Linked DNA regions of Homo sapiens. The protein of the gene in region 5 purifies or fractionates together with the protein of the main gene of each other region. This does not show direct contact. Each region holds a gene or a part of one and is shown on either strand. Other genes may lie near its edges. The genes, in order: SNX14, HERC3, ABCB9, KCNT2, DCST1, ADCY3 and KCNG1.

Region 1 (4,334 bases), on a different chromosome or scaffold from region 5:
GAGGTTACAGTGAGCTATGAGCACACCACTGTGCTCCATCCTGAGTGACAGAGTGAGACCCTTTCTCTAAAAACAAAAGAAAAAACACTTCACAAAAGAGGAAATCAATATATGGTCAATAAATACATGGAAAGGTGCCTAATTTTATTAATAGGGAAACTCAAATTAGAATCATGTTTGGGAAACACCGCATTCACCAAAGTTTTTAAAAGTCTGATTATACTAAGTGCTAAATATTGGTGCAGATGTAAAGGAACAGGAACTCTTACACACTGTTAGTAGGACTATAAATTGAAAAACTACTTGGAAAAATTGTTTGGTATAAAAACTGAAGGACCCAGCAGTTCCTCTCTCAGATATATACTTTGGAGAATCTATCCATGTTTAAGAACGTTCATAGTAGAGTTCTTTGTATAGCCCAAACTAGAAACAGCACAAATGTTCATCAGCAATTGAATGGACAGATAAACTGTGGTAAAGTCATAACGTTGAATACCCATATCATGAGGCTACTAGCAACAATGTGGATGAACTTTTAAAAATGTTGAATGAAAGAAACAAAACATGAAAGAATATATACAGTCTGATTCTTTTTACATAAACATCAAAACAGACCAAACTAGTGTAAGCTGGAAAAGTTTGAATAAAATTGTTAAAAAATCGTTGGGCGTGGTGGCTCACACCTGTAGTCCCAGCAATTTGGGAGGCTGAGGCAGATGGATCACTTGAACTTAGAAGTTCAAGACCAGTGTGAGCAACATGGTGAAACCCTGTCTCTACTAAAAACACAAAAATTAGCTGGGCATGGTGGTGGGCGCCTGTAGTCCCAGCTACTCAAGAGGCTGAGGCAGGAGAATTGCTTGAACCTGGGAAGTGGAGGTTACAGTGAGCCGAGATTGCACCACTGCACTCCAGCCTGGGCAACAGAGCAAAACTCCATCTAAAAAAAAAAAAAGGTAAAAAATAATATAGCATTGACTAGTTGCAGTGGCTCACACCTGTAATCCCAGCATTTTAGGAGGCCGAGGTGGGTGGATCACTTGAGGTCAGGAGTTCAAGACCAGCCTGGCCAACATGGTGAATCCTTGTCTCTACTAAAAATACAAAAATTAGCTGGGCGTGGTGGCGTGCACCTATAATCCCAGCTACTTGGGTGGCCTAGGCAGGAGAATTGCTTGAAACTGGCAAGTGGAGGGAGCCGAGATCATGCCACTGCACTCCAGCCTGGGCGACAGAGTGAGACTACATCTCTACTACTATTACTACTACTACTACTGCTACTACTACTACTACTACTACTACTGTATAAAAGCAATATTTCTAAATATATTTTATTTTTTATTCATTTGTATTCATTATGGTTTTTAGAGACAGAGTCTCACACTATTGCCTAGGCTGGAGTGCAGTGGCACAATCATAGTTTTTTTTTGTTTTGTTTTGTTTTGTTTTTTGAGACGGAGTCTCACTCTGTCACCCAGCTGGAGTTCAGTGGCACGATCTCAGTTCACTGCAACCTCCATCTCCCGGGTTCAAGCGATTCTCCTGCCTTGGTCTCCTTAGTAGCTGGGATAACAGGCGTGTGCCACCACGTCCGGCTAATTTTTGTATTTTTAGAAGAGACGGGGTTTCACCATGTTGGTCAGGCTGGTCTCGAACTCCTGACCTCGGGATCCGCCCGCCTCGGCCTCCCAAAGTGCTGGGATTACAGGCGTGAGCCACCACGCCCAGCCAACACAATCATAGTTCACTGCAGCCTCAAATCCTGGGCTCAAGTGATCCTTCCTGCCTCAGCCTCCCAAAGTAGCTAAGACTACAGGTACACACCAGCACACCTGGCTAATTTTTAAATATCTGTAGAGATGGGATCTCGCTTTGTTGCCCAAGCTGGTCTTGAACTCCTCAATTGATCTTTCCACCTTAGGTTCCCAAATTGTTGGACTTACAGGCGTGGAGCCACCCTGACTAGCCTCTAAATATATTTTATATGATGTAATCTGAAGTAATGTATATGGAACTAAATCAGTGAGTTAAATAATGCAAGTAGACATTTGGCTTCTGTCTATACCCACACCCCCACCCAAATCAATACATTTATTTGAGTCAAAATATTTAGTGTTTGTGTATCTTTTTATTGGGGGAAAAAAGTGAGGACAAAATATTTGGTTATATATGGCATTTAGGAGATTGGGTATTCCTGGTTACTGACTAGGTTTGATTGAAGAAGAAATGATCAGGGATGATCCAAGTTTCTATTTAAATAACTGGATGAATGCTGTTACTTGTTGGAATAGGGGATACATTAAGAGCAGTTTTGAACTTACTGAGTTTATAGAATCCAGTTGAAGTTTTATAAAGCAGGAGAGTCCAGGAGACAGGCAGAGATTAGAGATTTGAATTTTATTTGAAATCAGATTGAGCAAATAATTTGGCTCAGTAAGAACACATAGAAGACAGAAAAGCATAGGATGAAACCATATAATTTAAAGAACTTGGGAACATTCTAAGGAGGGGGTGTTATGAGAACCAGAAATACCAGAAATAGCCAAATGGGAAGGTTGGGTGGTTTGCCTGTCACAAAACAGTATTTTTATTCTTTATTATTAATGTCCCCTTCTATTGCCATAAATCTACTTTTTTCTGATTTGTTCAGAAAGCAGTTTAAGTTGTATTTATCAATTTTGATTGATTTTTAAGTCATTTCTAAATGCTGGAGAAAATCTCAAGATGTTTGATGTTTCAAATTAAGGGAAGCTGGAGATCAAGAAGTAATTTTGGCAAACATAGGATTTAGAATAGAAATTCTTAATCTAAAATTCAGAATATAAACTACTGAAATAGTTTTAAATATTGAGGCAGTTCTTAAAACTTTTTTTTGACTGACCTTTGCATATCTTTAGATACCATTATATATTCACTGTTACTGAAAACCCTTTGAAAATATTTCTTATAGAAATTTTCACAAAAGTAGACAAAATTATGTAATAAACTTCTTACTCAACGTTGTTATCAACCCTTGGCTTGTTCCATCCCTTCTCCCACCACTTACCTCACTGGATTTTTTTAAAGTAAATCCCAAATATTCTATCTATAAATATTTCAGAATACCATATTTATTGAAAATTTCCATGGAGTGTGAAATGGTCAATCATAAATACTTTTACAGTTTTAACTTGGCTATTTCGTATTTAAAATTACCTGGTTAAGTATTCATGTGAGCAATTATGAAGAGTTTTATGCCTTCCTAAAATAATGTTTTACTTTTAATTGCAGGGAAAATTATAAAATCTGTTCCTGGAAAACTAATGAAAGAGGTGAGTAACTGATTTATGTGTGTTCTATAACATGATAATCATAAACATATTTAAATATTGATAAATTTTGCTGGATTATGTACTAAAAATTACCTTTATTTTTTATTTTCTTACAATAATCTATCACCACAGAAAGGTCAGCATTTGGAACCTTTTATCATGAATTTCATTAATTCTTGTGAGTCTCCAAAGCCTAAACCAAGTAGACCAGAACTGACCATTCTCAGCCCTACTTCAGAAAACAACAAGAAGGTACTGCACATTGCATTAAAGAACTATTAAGTTTTAAGTTGCCCTACTTGAGATTACTTTTTCATTGTCGAGAGAATGAATACTTTGTTAATGAAATGGATTGAGCTATACATTTCCTTTATGTGGAAATCAGTTGAACGGTATACAGAGGGTATTGTGTGTAATTACTTGGTTCTTTGCTTTAATGTGGTAAATGTTTCTCTGGATACTATATTTGCAAACTGATGCCACTTCTGTATTTGGGGATTTTTAAAAGTGGTTTTCTTAGGTTATATGTCACCAACTTTCAATAATAAGAAATTAATTGCTATACTGTGTTTATGTTTATTGGATGGCATTACCTAACTTTCATGGCTTATAAAGTATTTTATCCATTCATTAAACAAACATTTTATTACATGCCTACGATTGAGTGCTAGGCACTGGGAATATAAGGATACATTCCTTGTCCTCAAGAAGGTGTTTAGTGCCAAGGTGTAGTGCCCAGCATGGGGAGCTATGGAAGCTCAGAGGACCTCTATCTTTTATTTTTGTTAATACTCTGAATGGTATCTTTAATATTATTAATGTTTTCATTTTATAACTTGTATATATAGATAGAAAATTTTTATTTAGTCGTCTTGCTAGACTTAACATTAGTTTTAGTAATATCTGGTAATTCTTTTATATTGACACAATTGTTGCAGATGATTGCAGTTTTGTTTTATTCCTGACTAGGACTGCTATATAGAAAGGAAATTGTTTAATTATTTCACCATCGAATAGTGTGGT
Region 2 (4,334 bases), on a different chromosome or scaffold from region 5:
TTTAAATAAAAATTGAAAAAAAGGCTGCATGCATCCACTAGAAGGAGAGGAGAGGAAGGGAGCACTGAGTCAAGTAACAGAGAATGGGATAAAATAAAGAAGAAACGAAAGGAAAATCAGGGAGGACACAGGGTACGAAAAGGAGAAAATAAGGGAAGGGAGGAAGGAGAAAATGGTAGAGGACATAAGGTGATAGAAAAAGGGAAAGTAAATTTATTATTTCTACTTTTCTTGGACAATATAGAGACTCAAAATAGTTAATGCAACTTGCTCCAAAAGCGAGAGTGCAAGAGGTGGTGGGTCTATCAATTAACCTTATTGTCAAAGGGACAAGGATGAGCAAGAAAAAATTAGGCTCAGCTGCAACGAATGCTAAGCTGCTCTGCACATCTTTTAAAAGGTCTAGGAAATAGGCACAGCCATGGGAAAGTTGCTATTCCCTCAAGAACTTTTTAAAAGCAAGATATGTTTATATAGGCTCCCATAAATTCTTAGGAGTTCTGCCAAAATAATGGACCCAGACTCAGCTTTTTGGAATTGGGAGTTTCTGAAGCAGTCCTTTCCTCCTTTGGGTTAAAGGAGGGCTGCAACAAGCCAGAGGCATTTCCAAGTGTACAGAGGAAGGTGATGTTCTCGCATGCGCAGATAAAAAAGGACAGGTCAGTCTAAATCATTCTTATAGAGGAATGAGAAGTTAAGAGAAGGACAAGGAAGCACTGTGAGAAAACATCAGGGCTGAGAGAGACATTTGGGAAATTAAAGTTTAAAAATCCACTGCCATTTCATCCAGCAGAGTGCAACACATTCACAAGTGCAAGGAATACTGGGTAGTTTGGTTTAAAACAAAAACAAAAACACCTCCCATACAAGGGCCAATTTTTCACCCCATCCCCAACCTCTAATTTTTCAAAAAGGTTGTTTACTGCTATACAATCCCAGAAACACATCAACCAGGCTCAGTATTTAAAAGTCCCAACCCACTTAGACAATAAAAAAATAGAAATCACTCCCCATGATTTTCTGTATAGGCCTCAATGTGGACACTGAGGAACGAAGGGAAATACTGGACAAGCTGAGAAGCCTCAGGCCAAACTAAACCCTTCATAGTTGTCAAGGGCCTGGGTCAGCCGGGCACTCAGAATCTCTTTGCTGCTGTACTTGGGGAGGTCAAGAAGGTTGTAGCAAGTGTGGGCCACCGGCAAGTACTCCTCCCCGCTGGCTGTGGACTGGATGACAATCTGCAGACTGGCCATGCCGTAGATGGGAATCCGATCGCTGCCTGTCAGGAACACTGGGGAGAACGAGAAATGGCATTAGCAGCTAAGCAAACGGAAAATGGATCTCAGAGATCCTTCTGGCAACAGGAGAGGAAGGCATGACACCCTGTGGCTTGCATGAGAAGTACAATTACATTTATGTGCCAATATGCATCCTGTGGAATGAAAATTAGATGCCGTTAAGAAAAAAAAAAGGCCTCAATCAAATGTACACCCTCACAAATGTTAGATTTCACAAAATCAAAGAGGGAAGGAATTGCTGTCATAGGAAAAGAGGAGCTGATCTTAAGGGGAAAACAGAAGAAGACTGAAGTCTCTGACCTCAGGGTCTCCTCTCACCTCAAGTGCCTGATGCCTGTACCACCTTGTCTACGGAATTCCATTTAGGATCTATTTGCTCTCCTTTCCACGTCTCCATTTTTCTTAAACCCGAAGAGCTGACCCAAACATTATGTTAGACATTGCACTCTTGTGACATGCACTGTGACTTGGCAAAAGAGAGAGAGGGAGACAGACAGAGAAAGACAGCTCCTTGTTTTCTAGTGCTGAACAACACTCTCATAGTTGAATTGCTGGAAATTACTATAAGAAAATCATTAGTTAAGAAGCACTTTCAAATAACCTGCCATTCCCTGAGGCTGTGATACATAAAGTTTCTTGCCAAAAATCTCCAGAGTTAACAAACATTTCTGTAAGTCTAATGAACAGAAAGTGCCATTTTCTAGGGAAATTCCAGGACCATGAGCAGGCATCTCTTGAATGTCACAGCCCTACAAGCTCACTTGGCAAACCTTAACCTGTCATTCAGCTCTTCCACTACTGCTTCTCAATAGCCAATGCAGCCAGGCAGAGGAGAAGTGGTCCCTCTTTTTAAGAATTCTTGTGTAAGATCTCCACTTCCTCTCATCCTTGCTCCCATGTGAGCAGCAGAACCTGTTAAGTCCTACATTAATACTAATATATGCTCCATCTTATAAAGCAAAATAGACTGCCTATCAAACCCTGTGCTTTGATTTTACATGACTAAAATTCCATACTATGCACTAGCTAATTTCTGACGCTGATTACACACAGACACAAACTGAGAAATATTTCAACCATTTTTAAAAGGCTGAATTTGTTCATGTAAATTAGAATTCATTCTCCTTTCCAAAGGTATTATTACCCTTCTCAAATGTCATTCAGCCAGCCACAAAGGTCTACATATTATATGATTCAATTTGCATGAAATATCCAGAATAGGCAAATCCATAGAGACAGAAAGACTGGTGGGGGAGCTGGGAAGAAATGGAGAATGACTGCTAATAGGTATGGGGTTTCTTTTTTGAGGTTATGAATGTATTCTACAATTGACTGTGTGTTAGTTTCACAACTGTGTGTATACTGAAATATACACTTTAAATGAGTATGGTATATAAATTATAGCCCAATAAAGCTGCTATAAATCACACCTTCCCAGTTCCATCTGGATACTTTGTAATATATTTTAAAGGCTAGAGAGATAAGAGAGGTTAATCCAAACAATTTGACTTCATAAATGGAATACTTGAATAACTTACATATAAAATAATTGGTATTTTTAGAATAATTTAAAAATCAGGCCAGGCGTGGTGGCTCACACCTGTAATCCCAGCATTTTGGGAGGCCAAAACAGGCGGATCACTTGAGGTCAGGAGTTCAAGACGAGGACCAGTCTGGGCAACATGGTGAAAGCCCATCTCTACTAAAAATATAAAAATCTGCCGGGCATGGTGGCAGGTGCCTGTAGTCCTAGCTACTTGGGAGGCTGAGGCATGAGAATCACTTGAATCCAGGAGGCGGAGGTTGCAGTGAGCTGAGATCACGCCACTGCACTCCAGCCTGGGCAGCAGAGTAAGACTCTGTCTCAAAAAAAAAAAAAAAGAAAGAAAGAAAAGAAAAATCAGTGAGATGCTTCTTTTCTTCCTTTCATGCAACCCCTCTTGTTAGGCAACAGATCTGGATTAACAACCTATATTGTGCCTGAGATAACATTAAGACAAAAAGCATACATATAGTGAATTACCTGGTCTTTACCATTTAAATGAGTTAAGCCTCAGCTGTGGAGCATGTCATCCTATACTGTATGTAAGACTAAAATGTAGACAAATACCATATTGAGATTACTGATACTTACAGAGAAACTTCTTCTTCTTTTCCAATGGAAACTCATGAAATGTTTCCCAAAATAGTTTTACAGTGGGATGTGTGGCCGAGTAATCTCCCTTGTAGATGGCAGTCTGTCCAAAAAAGAGAAAAAGAAAAAAATGTATCTTGGAAGAATATTATAGTGGACATTATATATCATTTGCATTTGAGGCTAAGAAATAAGTGCTGAGATACAGGACACCTCTAAATCTAACTCAACCACAGTATGCTTGGAACGAGACCAGGCTCTGGGAACACCTCCCCAGGCTGCTGCTGCTTCGCCGGAGTTAAAGGAGTTAAAGGATCTTTTGTGCTTACCTCTTCCAGTTCTTCCCAGTTGTAGTTGCTGTTCCCCACCATCATAGCCCTCAGTTCTGAAGGCTGGAAGAGCTCAAGTACTTTGCCACCACACACCTTTAGGAAGCCACTAGAGAAGGCTGTGTACCATTCATGAACTGAGATTTGGAAGACATAATTCACATAAGCATCCACAAATTCCTGCCTGCCAGAACACAAAAGAAAATACATTTAGCTCAAAGTCTTGTAAAGCTTATGAAGTTACCCTTCTACACTGAGATTGGGAGTGATAAAAAATAGAATTTCATCAAATTCTCAAATCAGGAGGCATCCTAAGGCATCATATAGGTTACCAGCTCTCCTCTCCTCCCTCTCCATCCCCAGCCCTAACATTCCACCAAGTGCCTCAGGTGATCCAAGGCAGGATAAGCCAGATAGGAAGGGCAGCAGGCCAGGTATATAGAACTAAACTACTGGCTTTACCTGAGGTATTCCAGTTTTCATGTTAAAAGCCCTGCTTAAAATTTAGTGTGGAAAAAATAATAAGACCTTTTCTGCTTAAAATAAAAAGTCTAGGATAACAGTTCTAGGCCA
Region 3 (4,320 bases), on a different chromosome or scaffold from region 5:
CCTTATGAGTTGGGTGGGGGGAACATCATTTCATGAGCTTTCAAGTTGTGGGTTCCAGCCCGCCCTTTCCACAGCTGCAGGGCAGGGCCTCTCACTCTTCCCCGGTGCTGCCCGGCCTCACCCATTGCTAAATTGTCTCTGTGCCTCCACCATACAGAGACAGGGGAGAAGGGCGCCCAGCTGTCAGGTGGCCAGAAGCAGCGGGTGGCCATGGCCCGGGCTCTGGTGCGGAACCCCCCAGTCCTCATCCTGGATGAAGCCACCAGCGCTTTGGATGCCGAGAGCGAGTATCTGGTGAGTCACAGGGTGGTGGGCAATGCGGGGGCAGGAGCGGCTCCAGGTGGCCAGAGCCCCCATCGCCCAGCAGATGGATGCTGAGAAGAGACGGGCCCCAGGAGCTCTCCCAGACTATCAGCCTCCTGGGCTGGTGAATTCCTGGTGTTGAGAGTGGGGAGCCAGGAGCCACTCTGGACCCAGCCTCCAGGCTCCAGGCAGAGCTGTATGGTGTGGGGCAAGAGAAGGCATCAGAATGGGGAGACCTGGGTCATGAGTGGTGGCTTACACCTGTAATCCCAGCACTTTGGGAGGCCGAAGCAGGTGGATCACCTGAGGTCAGGAGTTGCAGACCAGCCTGGCCAACATGGTGAAACCCCATCTCTACTAGAAATACAAAAACTAGCCAGGTGTGGTAGCACATGCCTATAATCCCAGCTACTTGGGAGGCTGAGGCAGGAGAATTGCTTGAACCTGGGAAGTGGAGGTTGCAGTCAGCCGAGATTGTGCCACTGCACTCCAGCCTGGGCGACAGAGCCAGACTCCATCTGGCTCAAACAAACAGACAAAACAAAACAAAATAAAATAGGCCCAGTATGATGGCTCATGCCTATAATCCCAGCACTTTGGGAGGCCAAGGCAGGTGGATCACTTGAGGTCCGGAGTTCGAGACAAGCCTGGTCAATACAGTGAAACCCTGTCTCTACTAAAAATACAAAAATTAGCTGGGCATGGTGGTGCATGCCTGTAACCCCAGCTACTCGGGAGGCTGAGGCAGGAGACTCACTTGAACCCGGGAGATGGAGGTTGCAGTGAGCTGAGATTGTGCCACTGCACTCTAGCCTGGGCGACAGAGTGAGACTCCATCTACAAAAAAAAAAAAAAAAAGGCTGGGCGCAGTGGTTTATGCCTATAATCCCAGCACTTTGGGAGGCCGAGGCGGGTGGATCACCTGAGGTCAGGAGTTCAAGACCAGCCGGGCCAACATGGTGAAATTCCATCTCTACTAAAAATACAAAAGTCCGCCAGGTATGGTGGCAGGTGCCTGTAATCCTAGCTACTTGGGAGGCTGAGGCAGGAGAATAGCATGAACCTGGGAAGCAGAGGTTGCAATGAGCCGAGATTGCACCACTGCACTCCAGCCTTGGCAACAGAGTGAGACTCCATCTGAAAAAACAAACAAACAAACAAAAACAAAAAACAGAATGGGGATACCTGGATTAGCAGCTCCGTCCTACAGTTTATAACTGTGTGACCTCAAGCTAGTGCTTCCCCTCTGAGTCGCATTCTCACTGGTCAGGTGGGCCCAGTCATGTATTTGCAGATGGCTAGCAACCTCAGTCTATGCGCGGATTGATTCATTTGTTACACAGAGAGTTACTGAGCTCTTCTCAGGCACCAGGCACCAGGCACCATTCTGGGGTTATCGTGGGCTAACTAGACAAAGACCCTTGTCCCCATGGTGTTTCCATTCCAGTGGGGAAGGCAGATAAGAAACAAGGAAGGCCAGGCGCGGTGGCTCACACCTGTAATCCCAGCACTTTGGGAGGCCGAGGCCAGGCGGATCACAAAGTCAGGTGTTCGAGACCAGTCTGGCCAACATGGTGAAACCCTGTCTCTACTAAAAATACAAAAATTAGCTGGGTATGGTGGCGGGCACCTGTAATCCCCTAGCTACTTGGGAAGCTGAGGCGTGAGACTCGATTGAACCCACGAGGCAGAGGTTGCAGTGAGCTGAGATCGCACCACCGCACTCCAGCCTGGGTGACAGCAAGACTTAAAAAAAAAAAAAAAAAAAAAGGAGGGGGAAGGGAAGGACCAGAAGACTGGAGGGCCAGGGTAGAGCTGATCCCCCATTCACCAGGTGCCTCATTGTGTCTGGCCCTGAGCTGTCTCCCTTTAAGAAAAACCCAGGAAGCTGGCCATCGTTTGTGAACTGAGCCTCAGAGAGGTTAAGCATCAGCCCATAGGCCGTGGCATGAAGCACGGTTGCGGGTGGGGCGTCCGTGCCATGCAAGCCAGGCCCCCACTGTCCCCGCAGATCCAGCAGGCCATCCATGGCAACCTGCAGAAGCACACGGTACTCATCATCGCGCACCGGCTGAGCACCGTGGAGCACGCGCACCTCATTGTGGTGCTGGACAAGGGCCGCGTAGTGCAGCAGGGCACCCACCAGCAGCTGCTGGCCCAGGGCGGCCTCTACGCCAAGCTGGTGCAGCGGCAGATGCTGGGGCTTCAGCCCGCCGCAGACTTCACAGCTGGCCACAACGAGCCTGTAGCCAACGGCAGTCACAAGGCCTGATGGGGGGCCCCTGCTTCTCCCGGTGGGGCAGAGGACCCGGTGCCTGCCTGGCAGATGTGCCCACGGAGGCCCCCAGCTGCCCTCCGAGCCCAGGCCTGCAGCACTGAAAGACGACCTGCCATGTCCCATGGATCACCGCTTCCTGCATCTTGCCCCTGGTCCCTGCCCCATTCCCAGGGCACTCCTTACCCCTGCTGCCCTGAGCCAACGCCTTCACGGACCTCCCTAGCCTCCTAAGCAAAGGTAGAGCTGCCTTTTTAAACCTAGGTCTTACCAGGGTTTTTACTGTTTGGTTTGAGGCACCCCAGTCAACTCCTAGATTTCAAAAACCTTTTTCTAATTGGGAGTAATGGCGGGCACTTTCACCAAGATGTTCTAGAAACTTCTGAGCCAGGAGTGAATGGCCCTTCCTTAGTAGCCTGGGGGATGTCCAGAGACTAGGCCTCTCCCCTTTACCCCTCCAGAGAAGGGGCTTCCCTGTCCCGGAGGGAGACACGGGGAACGGGATTTTCCGTCTCTCCCTCTTGCCAGCTCTGTGAGTCTGGCCAGGGCGGGTAGGGAGCGTGGAGGGCATCTGTCTGCCATCGCCCGCTGCCAATCTAAGCCAGTCTCACTGTGAACCACACGAAACCTCAACTGGGGGAGTGAGGGGCTGGCCAGGTCTGGAGGGGCCTCAGGGGTGCCCCCAGCCCGGCACCCAGCGCTTTCGCCCCTCGTCCACCCACCCCTGGCTGGCAGCCTCCCTCCCCACACCCGCCCCTGTGCTCTGCTGTCTGGAGGCCACGTGGATGTTCATGAGATGCATTCTCTTCTGTCTTTGGTGGATGGGATGGTGGCAAAGCCCAGGATCTGGCTTTGCCAGAGGTTGCAACATGTTGAGAGAACCCGGTCAATAAAGTGTACTACCTCTTACCCCTAACCTCTGACTTCTACTTGGGCCAACTGCCTCATCGCCCAGTTAGGTTTTTCCACCAGACCACGGCTCTCCTCTCAGCCCTCTCTGGTGGAGTTGCAGAGAGACTTTGGGTGGTCCAGGGCCTCCCCCTGTGTCTGGGAGCCCCATCTGCACTCCTCCCATCCCAGGGTCTCTGGTGTAGACATTCCTGTCTGCCTGTCTCCACGGGGATTGCGCAGGGGGATAGAGACGTTGCCTTGAAATCCCAGGGGCCTCTGTGCTTCCCGGGACAGCTGAACTGAGGCCCAACAAATGCCACCTGTTCTTTTCCATCGGGGCCCAGGCACCCGACACCCACCCCAATCCATGCAGTAAAGAAATATTACCCAGGAGGACAGCTCAATCAGCAGGGAGGTTTGGGCCCGGACACAGGAAGACCCCTGCGGTGGTTATTCTTACTTGCTGAATTGTGAAGAACTCTGGGGTCCCAGGAGGAGGGCTCTGTGCCAACTGGTAGAGTAGTATTTCAATTTTTTTTTTTTTTTTTGAGACAGAGCCTTGCTCTGTCACCCAGATTGGAGTGCAGTGGCACAATCTTGGCTTACTACAACCTCCACCTCCCGAGTTCAAGCGATTCTCCTGCCTCAGCCTCCTGAGTAACTGGGACTACAGGCACCCACCACCACACCCGGCTCATTTTTGTATTTTTAGTAAAGATGGGTTTCACTGTGTTGGCCAGGCTGGTCTCAAACTCCTAACCTCAGATGGCCTGCCCACCTTGGCCTCCCTAAGTGCTGGGATTATAGGCGTGAGCCACCGCGCCTGGCCAGCCTTGTCTTTCTCTTATAAA
Region 4 (4,334 bases), about 41 Mb from region 5:
AATTATCCTTTCCTTACAAAACATAGAAATATTGATTTGTGAATATTTTGTAGACCTTTATAAATACTATATTTTTGTGTTTTAAAACACCTAATTTATAATTGATTCTTAAATGATAGAATCATTTTGTTCTATCTTAAATGGCAGAATCATTTGGTTCTTATTCTTTTGTTTTCATATGTTAACTTGCATTTTTAATAGCAACTCCATACTTGTTTTTTTAATTATTTATATTTAATTAATTTCAAGCTTACTTATCATAACTCATAAAGGAAATCCATTTGTGGGAAAATTTTGATCCCATGGTGTATTAGCCTGCTCTCACACTGCTATAAAGAATTACCTGAGAGAGGATAATGTATAAAGAAAAGAGATTTAATTGGCTTACGATTCCACAGGCTATACTGGAAACATGTCTGGGGAGGCCTAAGGAAACTTATGGTCACGTGTAATGCGAAAGGGAAGCAGGTGTGTCTTCACATGGCCAGAGCAGGAGGAAGAGGGTGGTGATACATACTCACTATCAGGAGAACAGCAAGGGGGAAATCTGCCACCGTGATTCAGTCATCTCCCATCAGGCCCCTCTCTTAACATTTGGAATTATAATTTAACATGAGGTTTGGACAGGGACGCAAATCCAAACCATATCATACAGTCATTAACTTTATCTAGTATCAATGTAGAGAATTATTTAAACTCCAGAAATTCCTAGTAGATATATTTTACAGCAGTAAAATGGTGAATGTTTACCAGAGAATTTTAATTTCTATAAATCATTGGTTTAAACTGTTTCACCACTCAGATGTAATTTTCTCCAAAGGACCATATATTTTGTAATATTTTGATATCATGTTCATTTAATTTACTTTGTCAGTATTTTCAGTGTTTTTATGGATCCTTATTCATTCAAATATTCATCAGAAACTGTTCAAAATTATTGTTTCATAATTATATAGCTAAATGATATAAATCGCTATCACAATTTTGATCCTAAAAGTAATGAAGTATGAATTGATACTTAAATGCTTCTGCCTGGTGTTCAATGTATATTTTAGGATCAGTCTGTAGATAAAACTAAAACCTTCACAAGCTGAAAGTGTGTGCCAGGTATAACCACTGATTACCTTCCCTTATGGTCTTAGTAAGACTGAAATAAGTTGAGATGAATTTATTGATTTATGAGATTTGTGTATGTCCCAGTTGTATTTATTATAGTGTAATTGCTATTTAATATATGTCCAGGTTTTAAATGTGAAATTTTATTAGCAAAAGTTCATTTCAGTTTTATCATATTTCAAATTTTTCTTAGATATTTTATTTTTCTATGTAGTGTAACATAAAACATTTTTGTTTCTATTCCATTGCCCATTTTGTTTTGAATAGGATTATTATGTGGTGATTTTGTGTCCTACTGAAATGGATGTACAGGTTCGAAGGGTACTGCAGATTCCAATGTGGTCCCAACGAGTTATCTACCTTCAAGGTTCAGCCCTTAAAGATCAAGACCTATTGAGAGCAAAGTAGGTATCCCTGCCTTTCATCTTGCAGCTTACAGTTTTGAGTGACTTAATATTTTCTCTTTCCTCCAAATTTTAGCAATTTTCAGTGTTGCAAGATGTGTTAAAGTATGTTTGAGTATAGACTCTTGCCTTAGTCCCTCTGCTGGCCAAACTAAAAGGTCAAAAATATATCATAAAATCAGTGTGTTTACTCCTCTTTTTCAGCCTCATCTCAAGGCAAAACTGTTCAGAAGACTGTGACCACACAGCACAATGAAAAAAGTGGCCCAGAATAATTATCTTAAGCTGTCAGAGATTCACTGAGGTATCCAGACTCACTGTTAGAGTAGTCTCCAAATCCCCGAATACTGTTTTTATCCCACATATAAAAATTGTGGGCTAAATATGGTGTGACATACCAGTGCAGTGTGAGTTAGGGTTTACATTTTAAAGAGCTTGCACTATGTATTGGACACATAGCACTTGTGTTGCCTGGGGTCAGAGAAAAAATGGTTGCCATGGACTAGAGGAATCAGAAAGGTGACAGGACTTACTTAGCTACCCTCAGCTACCCTCTTCTTTTTGTGCATGTACCAGGCAATTTGTCTTAAAGGTGACATAGTCTTAAACATTTGTCACAAGTTACCAAGTTGTATCATATGAGTAGAGTGAGAGTATTATTGAGCATAGCGTGGACACCACAGAAACAGAGTTTCTGCAAAACAGTCTCCTTAGTTTCAGATGCCAGAAGGTATCTTCAACAAAAGTGGTTTTGCTCAATATTTTCTGCTGTTTTTAAAGTTTTAAACATATCTTCATGTTTACCCTTGAGTTGTCCTGCATACTCTTCTAGATTTAAAAGTCTCCCACTGAATTGAATAGCATAAGTGCTTTATACTTTTTTTTTTCTTTCCTGGATAACCTGAGTGTGCATGAGCGGGTGTGTATTTGTGCCTGTCTTCACTGTGTGTGCAAGTGTGTGTGTATGTGTGTGTGTGTGTCTGTCTAGTGGGTGTTGGAAAAGAACAGAAGAAAAGTCAACTGTTTTGTGGAACAGACTTCTGGACTCCTTTGTGCTGCATAATCCTTCAAATGATGACTAGATACCTAGTCAGGAACTCTGATGTTACCTTTGATTTATATATAATAAAGTCGATTTAATGGAGTTTTTTTTCAATGATTCAACTTCTGAAAAAAAAACAGCACGAGAAACTAGCAGGATATAATGAGTGTTATCTAATTGGAAAATTACATTTCTTTGTGAGTATTTTCATCTTTTTGGTGGATTAAATACTTTATATTTGTGGTCATTGTACATGTGACAGTTCTTTAAGTCATCAGATTTTCCCAGCACCTCAGGTAAACCCTGGCTTTAGGTGTTTACTGTTTGCTATCTATACTCATTATTTGGGTGTGCTAGAGAAATAGATGCTTAGATACTACTGTAATCTAGATCATTGTATTCATTGGTGTAGATAATCAATATTCTTAATTTATTGTATGATAGTTAAGTTCTTCACACAATAAACATGAATAACATTCATATTATGTTCAATATGAATTTGTGTAATACATGGAGGCTTCTTTCCATCTAACAAATTTATCTGAGTTATTGGTATTAGCTATTAGTATCTAAGCTATATACTATTTAGGATTAATGTAACTAATTTATTACCAATAGTCTTAAAATGATGTCTTGGTAAAAGCGACCATATTTACAAGAAGAATTCCTCCATGTGATAAAAGAAAAGGGAAGGGAATGAAGGAGAGAGAGAGGTAGCTATCTGGTCATACTCTAAAAGCTATTTAAAAAAACAAGTTAGAGTGACGCAGTATCCATTTTTATGTTCATTTCCAATCTTAGCTTCCTATAAAATATTTGGGATTTAATATAAACTAATACATTTTTCAGTGCAATTCCTCATGCATAGAGCATGGAGTAGGATTCTCCAAACAAGTTTCATAGGTTAGTTACATGAGTTTTGAATTGTTTAGTTGAAAATGGTGTTTAAAGAAAGTTATCCAACACTCATATTATCTTAATAACCATGGTGCAACATTTTCCCAGAACTGTTTGGTTTGGTCTTATTTCAAGGACTTTTATATTTCCTCCCCATAGAAACCATTTTTTTTTTTGGAAAATATTTACTTTATCACAGAGAACCACAGAGATAAATGATTCCTCATTTTGAAAATAAACATTCTTGTGCTCTTAGAACATCATGTATCAAACACTAAAATATACTGTGTCTTTATCACTAAACTTAAGAAATATTGAACCCTAGTATGAGGGGAAGGGGCTTGGAAAAAGATGATGAATGATCTCCAGGAAGTATAAATACAAACTAGAGTTTTACTTATGAATACAGAGGAGCTGTATTCCACCCCTCTTAGTTTGATTCAGACATTACAGTTAAAATACTATTAATCATAAAATAAAGACCAATATAGCCCCTTAATTTACTCAAAGCATGCATATAAAATATATTTAATCATACAAAGAAATAACATTTGGCTTTTATTAACTTTTGTCATAAAACATTAAGTTATAATAGACAACCCAATAGCAAATTTTTTTTTGTTCAAAATCAGATATAGTCATGATCTGCTAGAAATTCAACTTTCATTTAAGCTTAAGGATATACATGGTCTACATGTACATTTTGTGCAATATATGGACTCAAGACTGAAATTCTATTTTTCAGAAAACCTGTAGATATTTCAGTGTGTGATTATTTTGTTTTTCCATCTGTATTTAGGATGGATGACGCTGAGGCCTGTTTTATTCTCAGTAGCCGTTGTGAAGTGGATAGGACATCATCTGTAAGTTTCTAA
Region 5 (4,334 bases):
CCTGACCTCAAGTGATCCACCTGCCTCGGCCACCCAAAGTGCTGGGATTACAGGTGTGTGCCACTGTGCCAGCCATCCTTCTGCCTGTTCTTTTCCCCTTTCTGTGATTCAGCCCCTCCCTGTCCTCCTCAAGGTCAAATGACAGCCCTGCAACCTGACAGCTCTCACAGCAGGGGAGGGGGGCTCTGTACCCCTTTACACTTACAACTGGGAGCAGGGAGGGGTTAGGATTCAGGAAGGGACAGAAAGACTCAGGCAGCTGAGAAGCATTTCTGTGTCTTGACCCCTCCCTGACATCCACCCCCTTAACACATTCCTGATTTCTCCACCTGCCCTGACTTCCCTACCTGTCCTCCTGGCCGCAGGCAGTCATAAACTGGAGGTGAAGGTCGGGGGAGACTCCATGCTAGCCCGGCTTCTTCGAAAAACCATTGGGGCCCTGAACACCTCCTCAGAGACAGTGATGGAATCAAACAACATGCGTGAGTGATGCTGAAAGTTTGGATCAGAGGAATCGAGGGCGGTGGGGCAAGGGTCAAAAGACTCCAAGGTAAAGAGTTAGGGGCCTGGGCCTTGGGTGTGGAGAGATGGGGGTTGGAGCGCTTGAGCTGGGGAAATCGGAGCAGGGAACACATCTGGGCAGGCTTGAAAAAGGGGAGCATGACCAGCTTCAGTCAGAGGAGTCTGGAGGCCAGGGTCTTGTGGCTAGGGGGCCCCAGCCCTCCAGAGCAGCACTGTCCAACAGGACATTCAGTCAAGATAGAAATCTGCAAGATCTGTGCCACATTGGGCCCAGCGGCTACAGTACTGACAGGGCAGTTCTGCAGTGAGGGGCAGGCAGGAGGAGAGCAGGGGAATCAGAGGACTGCACCTCCCACTGGGATGGGAAGTCCAACCCAGGGCTGCCCTGCCCCTTGGCTGGTCCTGACCAGACCCCTGGCCTGCCCCTCCCCTAGCCTGCCTGCCCCAGCCTGTGGGCCTGGATGCCAGGGCCTACTGGAGAGCTGCAGTACCGATTGGCCTGTTAGTGTGTCTCTGCCTGTTACAGGCTTTTGGCTACCGACTCCGGAGGGTCATCGCAGCCTTCTACTTCCCCAAGGTTTGCCCCTCCCCAGACCTCTCCACCCCTACACACCTGCACACACACACACACACCACCCAGCTCCCTACCAACTCCATATTTGGGGGATGCCTTTCTCTATCATTGACCCCCTTCCTGCCCCCAGCGAGAGAAGAAGCGGATCCTGTTCCTCTACAATGACCTATTGAAGAAAAGAGCAGCCTTCACCAAACTCAGGAGGGCCGCTATCCTGAGGCGGGAGCGACAGCAGAAGGCTCCGGTAAGTCCAGGCGTAAGTGCTGCTGCCAGCTCCTGGCTGGGTCTAAGTACAGCAGGCAAGGGGCAGCTCCCTTCAGTCCACCCAGCACCCACCAATGGTCGCAGGCCTACTCGAGCCTGGTAAGTTCTTTTTATTTTTTGAGATGGAATCTCACTGTGTCGCCCAGGCTGGAGTGCAGTGGCACGATCTCGGCTCACTGCAACCTCTGCCTCCCAGGTTCAAGCGATTATCCTATCTCAGCCCCCCACTCCACAAGTAGCCAGGATTACAGGCACACGCCATCACGCCCAGCTATTTTTTTGTATTTTTAGTAGAGACAGGGTTTCACCATGTTGGCCAGGCTGGTCTCAAACTCCTGACCTCAGGTGATCTGCCCACCTCAGCCTTCCAAAGTCCTAGGATTACAGGCGTGAGCCACCAAGCCCAGCCAAGCCCGGTGTAATCTGATGCAACACATGCTGAGGGCCCCAGCCATCCAGCTCCTAAGGTCAGGGCTGTGCCCGTTTCTGAATCCCAGGATTCAGCCCAGCCTAAGACACTCAGTGGACCATTAGGAAGCAGGCAGAAAAGGAGAATGAGATTTAATACAGTCTGCTCATAGAAAAGCAAGAGGGCCGCACAGAAACAGGAGGCCCAAGGCAAAACCAAAGTTTCTACCAGAGGGCTGCAGACCAGAAGCTCAGTGCAGTTCAAGGGACAGGAGGAGGCAGGTGGGCTGGGAGTCAGGAAGGCCTCATGCAGGGGCACATGGTAAGGCACATGGAATCTGAGGAAGCAGACTCCAGTCCATACTCCCTCATTAAGTTGTGTCACCTTGGCCAAGGTCTTCACTGAGCCTCAGTTTCTCCCTCTGAAGAATGGCAAGACTGGAGAGATCTGTAAGGCCTGCTCACTGGAGATCAGCCTAGAGTGGTGGTCAGGTGTGGGACTCCGGTGCCAGAGGGCCTAAGTGTGTATCCCGGCTCCTTCCCTCATTACTATGACAACGGTGTGACCTTGAGCACATGACTTAACTGCTGTGCCTGGGCTTTTGCCTTCCATAAAATGGGGTTAACTACTCCATCTGGTTGTTTTAAGGATTAAATGAGTTGTACTTACATGGTGCTGGCATGCAGCAAGTTCCATATGCATGCATGTTATCATTGGGTGACCCTGGGCAGTGATCACATCTCCAAGCATCAGTTTTCTCACCTGAAAAAAAGGAGATGATAATAACACTATCTGCCTTACATGACAATTGAATTGAATTTTTTTTTTTTTTTGAGACTAAGTCTCACTCTGTCGCCCAGGCTGGAGTGCAGTGGCGTGATCTTGGCTCACTGCAACCTCCACCTCCCCAGTTCAAGCGATTCTCGTGCCTCAGCTTCCCGAGTAGCTGGGATTACAGGCACACACTACCACGCCCGGCTAATTTAGAATTGAAATAATTTATGTACAGTATCTTAGTACAGGACCTGACATTATAAACAATGAGTGGCAGCCATTCTTATTTAATCAGTCCTAACAAAGTTCATAAAAGTGAGACTGTGTTTGCTTAGCTTTTTCCCTAGGGCCTGGATACCCCCAGCCCCCATGACACACAATAGGGGCCAAATGAATGTGTTGTGAAAAAATGAAAAACAAAAAACAAAAAAGAACATGCTGGGATTCCTTGACAGGGTCGTGAAGCAAACTGAATGTGAATGCACAGATGGAAATGTGCCAGACAGTCATTCCAAGCAGAATGTGCAAAGACTCAGTCCACAGGGAATGCGAAGTGCCAGGGCTAGTCTCAGGAGAAACTGGCTCAGAAGAGACAGCTCTCAGGGAGGGCTAAAGTAGGAAAGAGGCTAGAAAGGGACCAGGTGAGGGAAGGCTCTGAAGGCCAAGCCCAAGAGTTCTGCCTGTCTGGCAGGCAGCAGGGCCTCTGGAGTTTCTTGGGCAAAGAGTGGCTGCTTCCTGGGTAAGGTGGCCTGTGGAAAATCCCTGACAACTGTGTAGAGACATGTCGTGAGGGATGGCAGGGAGCATAGTGAACTAGGTTTGTGGTTTGGAATCAGGGCCCCTGGGGTCCAGCCAAGTTGGATTGTTTACTATCTGTGTGACTTTGAGAGTCACTTCACCTTTCTCAACTGTAAAGTGGGGATAGCAACAGTGATAGTCGATCTGGCCTGCTCACTTCTCAGCCTCACTGTGAGAACCAAATAAGATGATTTACAGGAAAGTGCAAATGAGAGTTGTGGCTGATATCCGCTTGGAGAGAGCCTGGAGGGTGCATCCTCCCATTCTCCATCACAGAGTTGGGGAGGGAGGCACCCTCGCCCTCCAGGGGTTTCCTTTGTCCAACCCAGCCTCCTCCAACACGCGGGAATTGTCAGGCCTGGCGACTTCAGACAGGAAACGCTGTCCAGTTCCCCTTCTTTCCCGCCTCGCTCCCGGGCTGGCGCTAACGCCCACCTCCCAACAGCGCCACCCGCTGGCGGATATCCTGCACCGCGGCTGCCCGCTCCTGCGCCGCTGGCTGTGCCGGCGCTGCGTGGTGTGCCAGGCACCCGAGACGCCCGAGTCCTACGTGTGCCGGACGCTGGACTGCGAGGCCGTGTACTGCTGGTCGTGCTGGGACGACATGCGGCAGCGGTGCCCGGTCTGCACGCCCCGCGAAGAGCTCTCTTCCTCCGCCTTTAGTGACAGCAACGACGACACTGCCTACGCGGGGTGAAGAGGCGTCCTGCTCGCTCTTCCGCACCGTCCTTCCCGGTTAATAAAATGCCCTGTACGCTTCACGTGGGTCGGGGACTGGGGTGAGCCGCGCACTGCCTCGCCTGCAGTCGGGAAAGCCTGCCCGCCCGACCTCTCCGAGCCAGGCCGCGCACAGGAGGCAGGGAGGCCGCGAAGCTACTAGGGAGGGGTCCGGACCTGGCGCCGGGTGAAGGCGCGCCGCCCAAGCCGGTCGGACCGGGCACCGGCTCCCACTCCGCACAGTTGCGGGGAAGCGGTAGCGCTGAGCAGCGCGGG
Region 6 (4,334 bases), on a different chromosome or scaffold from region 5:
AATTAGTTCCGTCTCCCCAGCATCCCCCATGTGCCTCCTGGTTTCTCAGACAGCCTCAGAAGACAGCTGCTATCAATTCATTCCCTCCCTTACACACGCTACTCAAACATCAAAAGATAGAATCAATTTCCTCTTGCATCTGAGTTAGCCTGGACTTCTTGTAGCCGATAGTGATGAGCCTAACCTTTAAAAACTGTGATAGCTTCCACCTTCTCTCTGAGACCACCATGCTGTGAGGAAGCCCAAGTTAGCCACATGGAGAGGTCAGGAGGAGGAGCTCTGAGGCTCCAGACATGAGTAAAGGCTTCTTAGAACTTGCCAGCATAGCTGGCAACTGAATGCTGCAGGTGAATGAAACAGCGCAGGTGGACAAATGAGTGACCCCAGCCCATGCCACGTGAAGCACAAAAACCACCCAGCTGAACAGTCAACCCACAGGATCATGAGAAACAATAAACTGTCATTCTTTTTTTATTCTTTTTTGAGACCGGTCTTGCTCTGTCACCCAGGCTGGAGTGCAGTGTCACGATCATGGCTCATTGCAGCATCCGGGGCTCATAATCCTCCCACCTCAGCCTTCTGAGTAGCTGGGACTACTGGCACATGCTACCATGCCTGGCTGATTTTTGTACCATTTGTAGAGACAAGAGTTTTGCCATGTTGCCCAGGTTTAAACTGTTACTCTTTTAAGCCTCCAAATTTTGGGGCTGTTTGTTACACAGCAGTGGATAACTAAAACACATGGTGAATAAATGGACATATACTCAGTAACACTGAGTAATGAGCCATCCCACATTACTGAATTTCCAAATATAATCCTTATTTGTTCAAACTTGTGTTATCCATTCCCGAGGAAAATGTTTTTAGATACTACACTACACTTTATGCTAAATGCAATTTAATATTTCCTTTCTTTTCTTTTCTTTTTTTTTTTTTTTTGTGAGACAGAGTCTCCCTCTGTCACCAGGCACAATCTCAGCTCACTGCACTCTCTGCCTCCCAAGTTCAAGCAATTCTCCTGCCTCAGCCTCCCCAGTAGCTGGGACTACAGGCGTGCATCACCACGCCCGGCTGATTTTTTGTATTTTAATAGAGATAGGGTTTCACCATGTTGGCCAGGATGGTCTCGATCTCCTGACCTCGTGATCCACCCACCTCGGCCTTCCAAAGTGCCGGGATTACAGGTGTGAGCCACCGCGCCTGGCCTTAATATTTTCTTGATGAGTTGGTCACCATTATGCACATCAGTTACTATGCTGTCCTATAATGTAACAACGCCTCCTACAGCCAGAGAAGGTGCATATGAGGGCTGTTGGTTGCAACACTCAACACCCCAGACATCTCTGTTCCTTGAAGATGCCCCCAAAAACACCTCCTCATCCCCCAAATTGCTCCTTCTAATGCTTGTGGGTTGAGAAACCAAAACCCTAACCCCGTTGGAACTATCTCAACAGGCTCCGAGGGAAGATATAAGGGTTCTTTTTTTTTTTTTTTTTTTTTTTGAGATGGGGTCTCACTGTTCCCCAGGCTGCAGTGGGGTGGTATGATCAGAGCTCACTGTAACTTCAAACTCCTGGGCTCAAGCCATCCCCCTCCCCAGCCTCCTGTACAAGACACACACCATCAGCCTGGGCGCTGTGGTTCATGCCTGTAATCCCAGCACTTTGGTAGGCCGAGGCAGGTGGATCACCTGAGGTCAGGAGTTCGAGACCAGCCTGGTTACTGTGGTGAAAACCTGTCTCTACTAAAAATACAAAAAAAATTAGCCAGGCATGGTGGTGGGTGCCTGAAATCCCAGCTACTTGGGAGGCTGAGGCAGGAGAATTGCTTGAACCTGGGAAGCGGAGGCTGCAGTGAGCCAAGATAGCATCATTGCACTCCAGCCTGGGAGACAGACTCAAAAAAAAAAAAAAAAAAAAACACACACACACACACCACCAAGCCCAGCTGAATTTTTTTTGGTGGTTGTGTACGTGTGTGTGTGTGTGTGTATGAAGATGGGGTCTCATTATGTTGCCCAGGCTGGTCTTGAACTCCTGGCCTCAAGTGATATTCCTGCCTCAGCCTCCCAAAGTGCTGGGATTCCAGGCATGAGCTACTGGTCACCGCCTAATGGGTTCTTTTATGACTCCAGTGAGAAGGAACTCCAAAATCCTACTGACCTGGGCTCCAATCCTGCTCTGCCTCTTACTAGGCATGTGGCCCTGGACAAGTCATTTCAGTTGTCACCCATTTCAGTTTCCTGATCTGTAAAATGGAAATAATATTTGCCTCTTGCCAGAAGGCACTAAACTGTAACAGAGCAAGAGCTCAGTAAACACAGCCACCTCCTCACTGTCCCTGCTCATGGGCCTCGACCTACGCACAATGTGTCTCTGAGTCTCCGTGTTGGTGATAGCACATACCCGTGGAATCTATTATCAAGAACGTGTAATTTGGTGATGGCTGGGCATGGTGGCTCACACCTGTAATCCAGCACTTTAGGAGGCCGAGGTGGGTGAACCGCCTGAGCTCAGGAGTTCAGGCCCAGCCTGGGCAACATGGTGAAACTCTGTCTCTATTTGAAAAAAAAAAAAAGGAAGAAGAAAAAGAAAAAAAGAAAAAACAAAAAGAATGTGTAATTTGGTGGGGGGGCAGCCAGGGGCAGAGGGTGGTGTTGGAATATTTACCCAGCATTAGACCACCCTCGTGGGATTTGCTGTTTGTTTATGAAGAAACTGCAGAATGCCAATAACCCTGGCATCCCAGCCATTCCATCTGACGGAGGGTTTACCCAGAAGGCTGGGCAGACCAAGCCCAGGAGTGAGCACGCATGTGTGTGTGTGTGTGCATGTGTGTGTGTGTGTGCATGTGTGTGTGTGTGTGCATGTGTGTGTGTGTGTGTGTGCCTGCATGTGCATATAAAACTACCCAGTTACCCACCCCTGGCCCAGCCCTGGGCTTCCGTTTCCTCTCTAGAAAAACTCGCTGACTATAAAGCGCTGATTTAAAATAATAAACACGAGGAGTCCAGTGTTCACAGCAAAATGTCAGGGAAATAATGTGGATGAAAGGTGGGGCCTAAATTGCATATGCATGATGATGACAAACTGGGAAAGCTCTGTTTATACACAGATCGGGGTCAGAAAAGGCCACAGAAAGCTGCGACAGGGAAAGGATGGAGGGGTTGATTTTCTGCAAAGTTGTTTACATGTTCAATGACTGATTATTCCTCCTCACATGCAGCTGAATCTGATGGCCCTGCAGTCCCCTTCTACGCACGTCATCATTGTTCTGGTCCCTGGACCCTCCACTGATGCCCATCTGCATACTCTCCACGGAGGGATGACGGCTTCTTTCCCGTCCCGGGTCAGTGGAGGAGCCCAGGGCCAAAGAGCCAGGACTGGCTTGAGTTTGCCTCCTCTTGCTCTGTGTCCTGCACACCTCTCCCTGCAGCCTGCTTCCTGAAGGCTGAAAGCCCCCAGGCCTGCTGCTTCCTGCCCACCGCACCTCACACCAGCTCCTGTCCCGATTCAGCCCCCTGCCTTTCTCAAGTACTCCTGGCCACGTGCCCACAGGGAACATCGTCATGGGCTTCTCCCTTCTTTGCATCCAATTCCCATGGGGAGAAGGGGGTGCCTCCTGTTATACCTTAGGGACTGCCATCTCTTGGCACTGTTCAGCTACGTTGCTTAGCAAAGACATTTGGGGGCAGCCAGAAAAGTAGGAGGCCCAGATGCCTGGGTTCCAGAGAAAGAGAGGCTTTCAGGGAAGTCCCCCAACCCACCTTTCTCACTCATCAGTGACCCCTCCCCTGTAATCCAGCCCCACTACCTCCTCTCAACCTCACTGAGCCTCAGTCCCCTTATCTGTGAAATGGAGCCAGTAACATCCAGGATTAAATGGGATGAGGTGCATGCAACAGCTACCTGCCGTCTGCAGACAGGGTGTCTCTGGAAGCCTCAGTTTCCTCTCACCCTCCCTACGGCAGCTCCCTCCAGCCCCTAGGAGCAAATGTTCCTTTGCTGGGTGAATGATTGCTGTGTAATTTGCAGGTGTGAAAGAAACTGCACATCCACAGCTTCCTCATGTTTTACTTGGTGAAAAAAGGTCTTAACAGGCTCTTCATTCCATGAGAGAATTTTGCTCCCAAATAGCCTTTCTGCTCTGAAGTAAGGGTACAAAATATTTGTCAGCAGTTCCTAGTCCCTACTTTGCCAAATGCTAAAGGCACGCCCCGCCCACCACCACCCCCAACCATCCTGGCTGCCTTCCCCATTGTCCGCACTCATTGGCCGCTGGTCCTGCAGGTCCTGGTCCTGAGCCCAGTCCCCTCCTTCCTCCTCACCCAGCCC
Region 7 (4,889 bases), on a different chromosome or scaffold from region 5:
CTCTTTGATGTTTCTCAGACATGCCTCCTTCTCTCCTGCTTGAAGGCCAGTGCCTTTGATGTTCTGTCCACCTAGAAAGCTCTCTTCCCATCTTGCCAGATGGGCTCCTTCTGGCTCAGGGCTCCATGTAACCATCACCTCCACAGGAGCCCTCCCCCATTATTCTATCTAAAGTGGCCTCTCTGGCTTCATTCTGCAATCACGTATTTCAGCAGTTTCCCAATTCTGCCAAGCCCCCAGTAGAAGGTGAGCTCTTGGAAACAGGTCCTTAGGCAGATCCTTGTCTGTCCAGGCCTCCACCTCACCAGTAAGCCAGTGTTTTTATTCTTGTTGTTTTAGAGGCTGGATCTCGCTCAGTCACGCAGGCTGGATTGCAGTGGTGCCATCATAGTGCACTATAACCTGGAACTCCTATGCTCCACCCGGCTGGGACTGCCGCGCAGGCTAGTGTGCCCTGCGCTCATTTCTTAGGGTTAACCCTAACCCACTTAATGAGCACCCACGACTCCCCAACCCGAGCCCCACTCAAGCAGAAGGCCTCAGGCTGGTCGGCAGCAGGGTTTCTTCATGTCCTTTCTTGGTTCTCTGATGATAGGCAAAGGCAGTAGAGACAGAAAGGAAAAGAGGAACGGAGTGCAAGAGACAGAAAGGAGAAGAGGAACGGAGTGCAAGAGACAGAAAGGAGAAGAGGAACGGAGTGCAAGGCAAGCCACCCTAAGAGGCCAGCCCTGCCAGCAGCACAGATCCCTCCAAACCAATAGGTCCCTCCAACTCAGTAGATTCCTCCAACCCAATAGATCCCTCCAACCCAACCTCCAGCATCTGTGCAGCATCCTACCAACTCCGAGGCTAGGCGGCCACACTGGGAGCAAGACCCCAGGACCTGGTCCAAGTGCCCTGCACCGGCCAGGGGAGTGGACGACGAAGTGCGGCTCTGCTAGCCCGGGAGGGCTCTGGGGCCTCGGCCCCGCGGGACTGGAAGGGAAAACACCTGGCACGGTACGTACTGGCCCTAGGAATTTGGCACAGCAAGATGCTGGCAGTCCCTGGGTGGCGGTGGCAGGAAGGGCCCAAGGGCAACATTGGTCTAGGAGGTCGAGAAAAGGCGCGCGATATATGGCCCCCAGGATGTGGAAGCTTGCTTGGAGCGTTCGGCTCCAGGGCAGCAGCGCGTGGAGGGCCTCAAGGATGCAGTATTTGCCCGGGGTAGGGGGGCGAGGGACCCAGAGGCAGCAGTGCACTTGGACTTCCAGGACTTCCAGGGAAAGGCAGGAGACATGGCGCATGTGGTTCCCAGGATGTGTAAGCGCGTGGAGCGCGGCCCCGGGGCAGCGGAGAGTGGGGTTTTAATATCTAGCACATGTAGACCCTGGGGCGGTGCTGCTAGGGGCGCGGACCCGGGACCACCGGAGCACTTGCACCGCGGGGAAAGCTGACAGGGCGCGCGACCCTAGGAGGCTGCCGCGCCGCCTGGTGCGTGAAGCTCCAGGGCAGCGGAGCGCGGGGACCTTGAAGGCTGTCGCGTGCAGGCGAAGGGGCCGCAGGGTGGTCGCTCCTGGGAGAGCAGACGGGGAAGAAGGCAACGGGAGGGAGGGCGTAGCGCGAGCAGTCCCGGACGCGGGCTCAGGAACTGGCCGCGAGGAGCGCAATCCAGCAGGCGCGCCAGGGCCCCCGGATCCAAGGTGCGGGGTCCCGATTGGGCGCCTGGACGCCCCGTGACGGTGGCGCCGCTGCCACTGTCCCGAAGCGAGGCGAGGCCAGGCGCTGCGCTTTCGGCTGCCCGCCCCTTCTCCCCGCCCCGCGCTCAGTCCCCTCCCTCCGTCCCGCCTCCTGCCTCGCTCCCTCCCTCGGCGGCTGCTGCGCCGCGCTCCCGGCGCACTCGGAGCCCGGCGGGGACCGGGAGGCAGAGACGGGGCGGCCGTGGCTCCGAGGGCGGGAGCTGAGCCGGGCCCCGGGACCGAAGTTTGGCGGCGGCTCCGGGAGGCAGAGCGGGCTCCCCGGGCGACTTCCAGGCCCCTCTCGCGTCCTCGCCCCGGACCCGTGGGCAGCCGGGGGGAACGGAAGCCGCGGCCGGGCCAACTCCGAGGCGGGGACGCCGCGACGGGAACTTGAGGTGGGAACTTTGCGCGCTGCAGCCTCGCCGGGCGCCACCGAAGCGCGAACCGGACCCCGAGCCTGCAAACTCGGGCTCGGGGGCGGCTGCACGTGGCCGTGGCCCTGAACTCCCTGCGGGGGCCTCGAAACCCGCCTGCGGGGAGGCCAGGGCGACAGAGGACTCGGGAGTCACCGCTGGTGCGTGGCGGCGTGGAGCGCGCTTGTTACGGCCAAGGTGCGGGTCCGGCTTCGGTTCATCCCAAGGGGTCACCGGGATGCGAAGTCCGGGACGTTCGCCGCCGCGGTGACCCCGGCGGGGGCGCATCCCGGCTGTGGGCCGAGGTTTCTCCCCCGATCCTGGGAGGAAGGAGAGTTAGGGATTGGGGTGGGGGAGTGTGTGTCACTTGCTCATTCACTGTATCCTTAGGCACAGTATGGAGCCCCCCTTCACCCCCACCGTGGGCCTGATTGAGTCATTCATTATGAACACAGCAAGCGTTTATTGAGCGCCTACTGTGTGCTAGGCACTGGGGATACTGAGACAGTTCACTGGGCACCCCCAGGAACTGGTAGGAAGGTGGTGGTCTCAGCCTTAGGGTTTCCATGTGGGAGAGAGGCTCAGCCCGGAGGTATGGAAGGAAAAGGGTGAAGTTCATTCATTCATTCATAGATTGGACAAAGATTGGTTGAGCACCTATTGTAAGCAGCTCATCATACCAAGCGCTCAACAGTCATTCATCCAGTTCACAAACATTTATGGAGGCGCTATGCTGGGGAGAAGTGAAGAGGGATGGAATGGGGGCACCCTTCATGCAGCTTAGAGAGAAGTAAGGATTAAGACCCAGGCCCCCGCTTGGGAGGCCGCAGACTGCCGGGGTGGCCAACTGTAGCAGCCCATGTATATAGGCAGAAGTCTTGGTTCATCTAATGCATTCCTTCTCAAGGTGGGAGGTGTGGAAGCTGGAATTGGTTCTAGAATAGGAAGAAAAGATCTTTTCAAAGCTCCTTAGGGGCGGGTGATGGGGTAGGGTGGGGAGGAGTTGAGAAACACTGATCCGACATTACTGAGGAATGCAGGTTCCCACCAATGGGGTTTATGAGTTAGGTTGTCCATTCAGCAGGCATTTTCTTAAGCACTCGCTGTTATTAAGCACTTAAAGGGTGCCAGGCACCAAAGTTACCCAGGTAAATGACAGACACATAGAAGAGGGAGACAGACACAGACGCCCCCACCCCCTTTGCTGACTCCCTGAGATAAGTACAGGGGGAAGTAAGAGGAGGGAGCAGGAACTGGTCTGATTCATTGTGGGGTGGGGGAAGTTCCTGCCCTATGAATCTGAGCAGAGGTTTATTCATTAGTGTGTGTTTGATACCCCCATACCCATGATGGCAGAGTCCCTATGAAGAGCCTCACCGGCAGCACATCTCCAAGAAAAGTTTGGCACTGCTGATTGGGGCCTTGCGGTCGGCACTGTGGCTAGGGCATGCTGTCCTTCTTTGGGGGATTTTTCAGGCTCTGCCAGACCTGAGCTCTATTTGTGCCTCCCCCGGCTTTTGGAGCCCTGCAGAGTCGCCTGATAGGAGGGGAAGGAGGGAAGGTGTGTTTGAAAAACAGGCAAGCGCTGGCCCCTGGGGATCACCCTCCTCAGTCATTCTCGAAGCCAGCCCGTTCCACGGGAAAGATGTCTGTCCTGGGACACACTCCTAACCTGCAGGGAACTGCAAGCACACTGGAAACGAGGCAACCTAGGTTCTTCTCCTGAGACTTGAGAGCCCAGGCCCGCAGCCTACAGCCTGGGTTGTCAAACCTTGGGAGTAAAAAAATCAACCAAACCCCTAGTTTTGCCAAACTCTGGGTTGCCTTTTTGGCCTCTGGGAGGGAGATGTGACATGGGAGGCAGAGGTTACTTGCTTCTCCCCATCCCCAAAGACTTTCCCGAAGCTTGTCCTGGAGCCTGATTGGGGCAGATCTGAGCACCACTTTGAATTCTCTGCACCAGACCCACAGCTGGGCTCTGGCAAGAGGTGAGGGAGGTGCCTCAGGAAACAGAAGAACAAAGAGATGTGTGCTGGATGCAGGGCTAAGCGACGCAAACCAGCTCCGAGGAACTCACCTCCTGGAGCCGCAGTAGGTACCTTGGCTCGGCTGTCCTTTCTCCACCCTGCTTTCCAATGTTGATGAAGAGTCAACATTGCCTGTTGCCAGAGGTCTAGGGGTACAGGAATCTACCCTTGGTTGTTGCATTAAGCCCAGAAATGGAGCCTGTGGGTGAAAAATGGCAGCTGGTAAAGCCCCTCTAAATAGAATTAATAAAAAGGGAGAGGCGAAGAACCTAGCTGAAGCACTCCATTGCTGTGGACCATTTTTATCATCCAGCAGACTGTATTTGATTAACGAAATCAGAAATGAAGTGACTTTGCTACAAATAGGATCTGAATTGTGCCTAAGACTGTCCGTTGCCCTGAGGTGAGTCTTCACTCTCATACCCACACCTCCCCGGGCAGGTCCGATCATGCTCTCCCTCCAGAGGACTCTGGTAAGCAGGTGTCTCCCTTCCTGCCGTCCTGAGGTCCCCACTGCTCCCCCAAGCCTGCTTCTCTGCTTAATTTTGAGCTACAAGGAGGCAAAGAGAAAAGGATCTTCTGGCTCCAGTCCCCAAACACCTCCCCGTAGAAGAAGGCAAACGCAAACGTGCATTTGGTGTTATTTTGCTTGCCTGCAGCACAGCAGGGAGGCTCCCGAGGCAGCCTGTCTTTTTTATAGGGGGGAGGGACACTGGCACTTTTTCTCATTT

Evidence for each region.
Region 1: the proteins of DCST1 (region 5) and SNX14 purify together in Homo sapiens (affinity purification with mass spectrometry; one large-scale study listed by BioGRID and IntAct). This does not show direct contact.
Region 2: the proteins of DCST1 (region 5) and HERC3 purify together in Homo sapiens (affinity purification with mass spectrometry; one large-scale study listed by BioGRID and IntAct). This does not show direct contact.
Region 3: the proteins of DCST1 (region 5) and ABCB9 purify together in Homo sapiens (affinity purification with mass spectrometry; one large-scale study listed by BioGRID and IntAct). This does not show direct contact.
Region 4: the proteins of DCST1 (region 5) and KCNT2 purify together in Homo sapiens (affinity purification with mass spectrometry; one large-scale study listed by BioGRID and IntAct). This does not show direct contact.
Region 6: the proteins of DCST1 (region 5) and ADCY3 purify together in Homo sapiens (affinity purification with mass spectrometry; one large-scale study listed by BioGRID and IntAct). This does not show direct contact.
Region 7: the proteins of DCST1 (region 5) and KCNG1 purify together in Homo sapiens (affinity purification with mass spectrometry; one large-scale study listed by BioGRID and IntAct). This does not show direct contact.

What each region holds. Positions count from the first base shown.
Region 1 is NC_000006.12:85,516,985-85,521,318, reverse strand, and holds part of SNX14 (sorting nexin-14), read left to right. Parts: intron 1-3,270; coding exon 3,271-3,311; intron 3,312-3,443; coding exon 3,444-3,563; intron 3,564-4,334. UniProt on the Homo sapiens protein: Plays a role in maintaining normal neuronal excitability and synaptic transmission. May be involved in several stages of intracellular trafficking. Required for autophagosome clearance, possibly by mediating the fusion of lysosomes with autophagosomes.
Region 2 is NC_000004.12:88,703,709-88,708,042, reverse strand, and holds part of HERC3 (probable E3 ubiquitin-protein ligase HERC3), read right to left. Parts: intron 3,946-4,334; coding exon 3,762-3,945; intron 3,536-3,761; coding exon 3,433-3,535; intron 1,292-3,432; coding exon 1,083-1,291; 3' UTR 1-1,082. UniProt on the Homo sapiens protein: E3 ubiquitin-protein ligase which accepts ubiquitin from an E2 ubiquitin-conjugating enzyme in the form of a thioester and then directly transfers the ubiquitin to targeted substrates.
Region 3 is NC_000012.12:122,928,166-122,932,485, reverse strand, and holds the end of ABCB9 (ABC-type oligopeptide transporter ABCB9), read left to right. Parts: intron 1-157; coding exon 158-294; intron 295-2,314; coding exon 2,315-2,575; 3' UTR 2,576-3,494; downstream 3,495-4,320. UniProt on the Homo sapiens protein: ATP-dependent low-affinity peptide transporter which translocates a broad spectrum of peptides from the cytosol to the lysosomal lumen for degradation.
Region 4 is NC_000001.11:196,423,038-196,427,371, reverse strand, and holds part of KCNT2 (potassium channel subfamily T member 2), read left to right. Parts: intron 1-1,383; coding exon 1,384-1,520; intron 1,521-4,258; coding exon 4,259-4,322; intron 4,323-4,334. UniProt on the Homo sapiens protein: Sodium-activated and chloride-activated potassium channel. Produces rapidly activating outward rectifier K(+) currents. Contributes to regulate neuronal excitability.
Region 5 is NC_000001.11:155,046,831-155,051,164, forward strand, and holds the end of DCST1 (E3 ubiquitin-protein ligase DCST1), read left to right. Parts: intron 1-365; coding exon 366-482; intron 483-956; coding exon 957-1,099; intron 1,100-1,226; coding exon 1,227-1,340; intron 1,341-2,438; exon of another isoform or gene 2,439-2,531; intron 2,532-3,776; exon of another isoform or gene 3,777-3,786; coding exon 3,787-4,038; 3' UTR 4,039-4,100; downstream 4,101-4,334.
Region 6 is NC_000002.12:24,909,739-24,914,072, forward strand, and holds part of ADCY3 (adenylate cyclase type 3), read right to left. Parts: intron 1-4,334.
Region 7 is NC_000020.11:51,020,094-51,024,982, reverse strand, and holds the start of KCNG1 (voltage-gated potassium channel regulatory subunit KCNG1), read left to right. Parts: upstream 1-1,875; 5' UTR 1,876-2,113; exon of another isoform or gene 2,114-2,329; intron 2,330-4,889. UniProt on the Homo sapiens protein: Regulatory alpha-subunit of the voltage-gated potassium (Kv) channel which, when coassembled with KCNB1 or KCNB2, can modulate their expression and their gating kinetics by acting on deactivation upon repolarization and inactivation during maintained depolarization.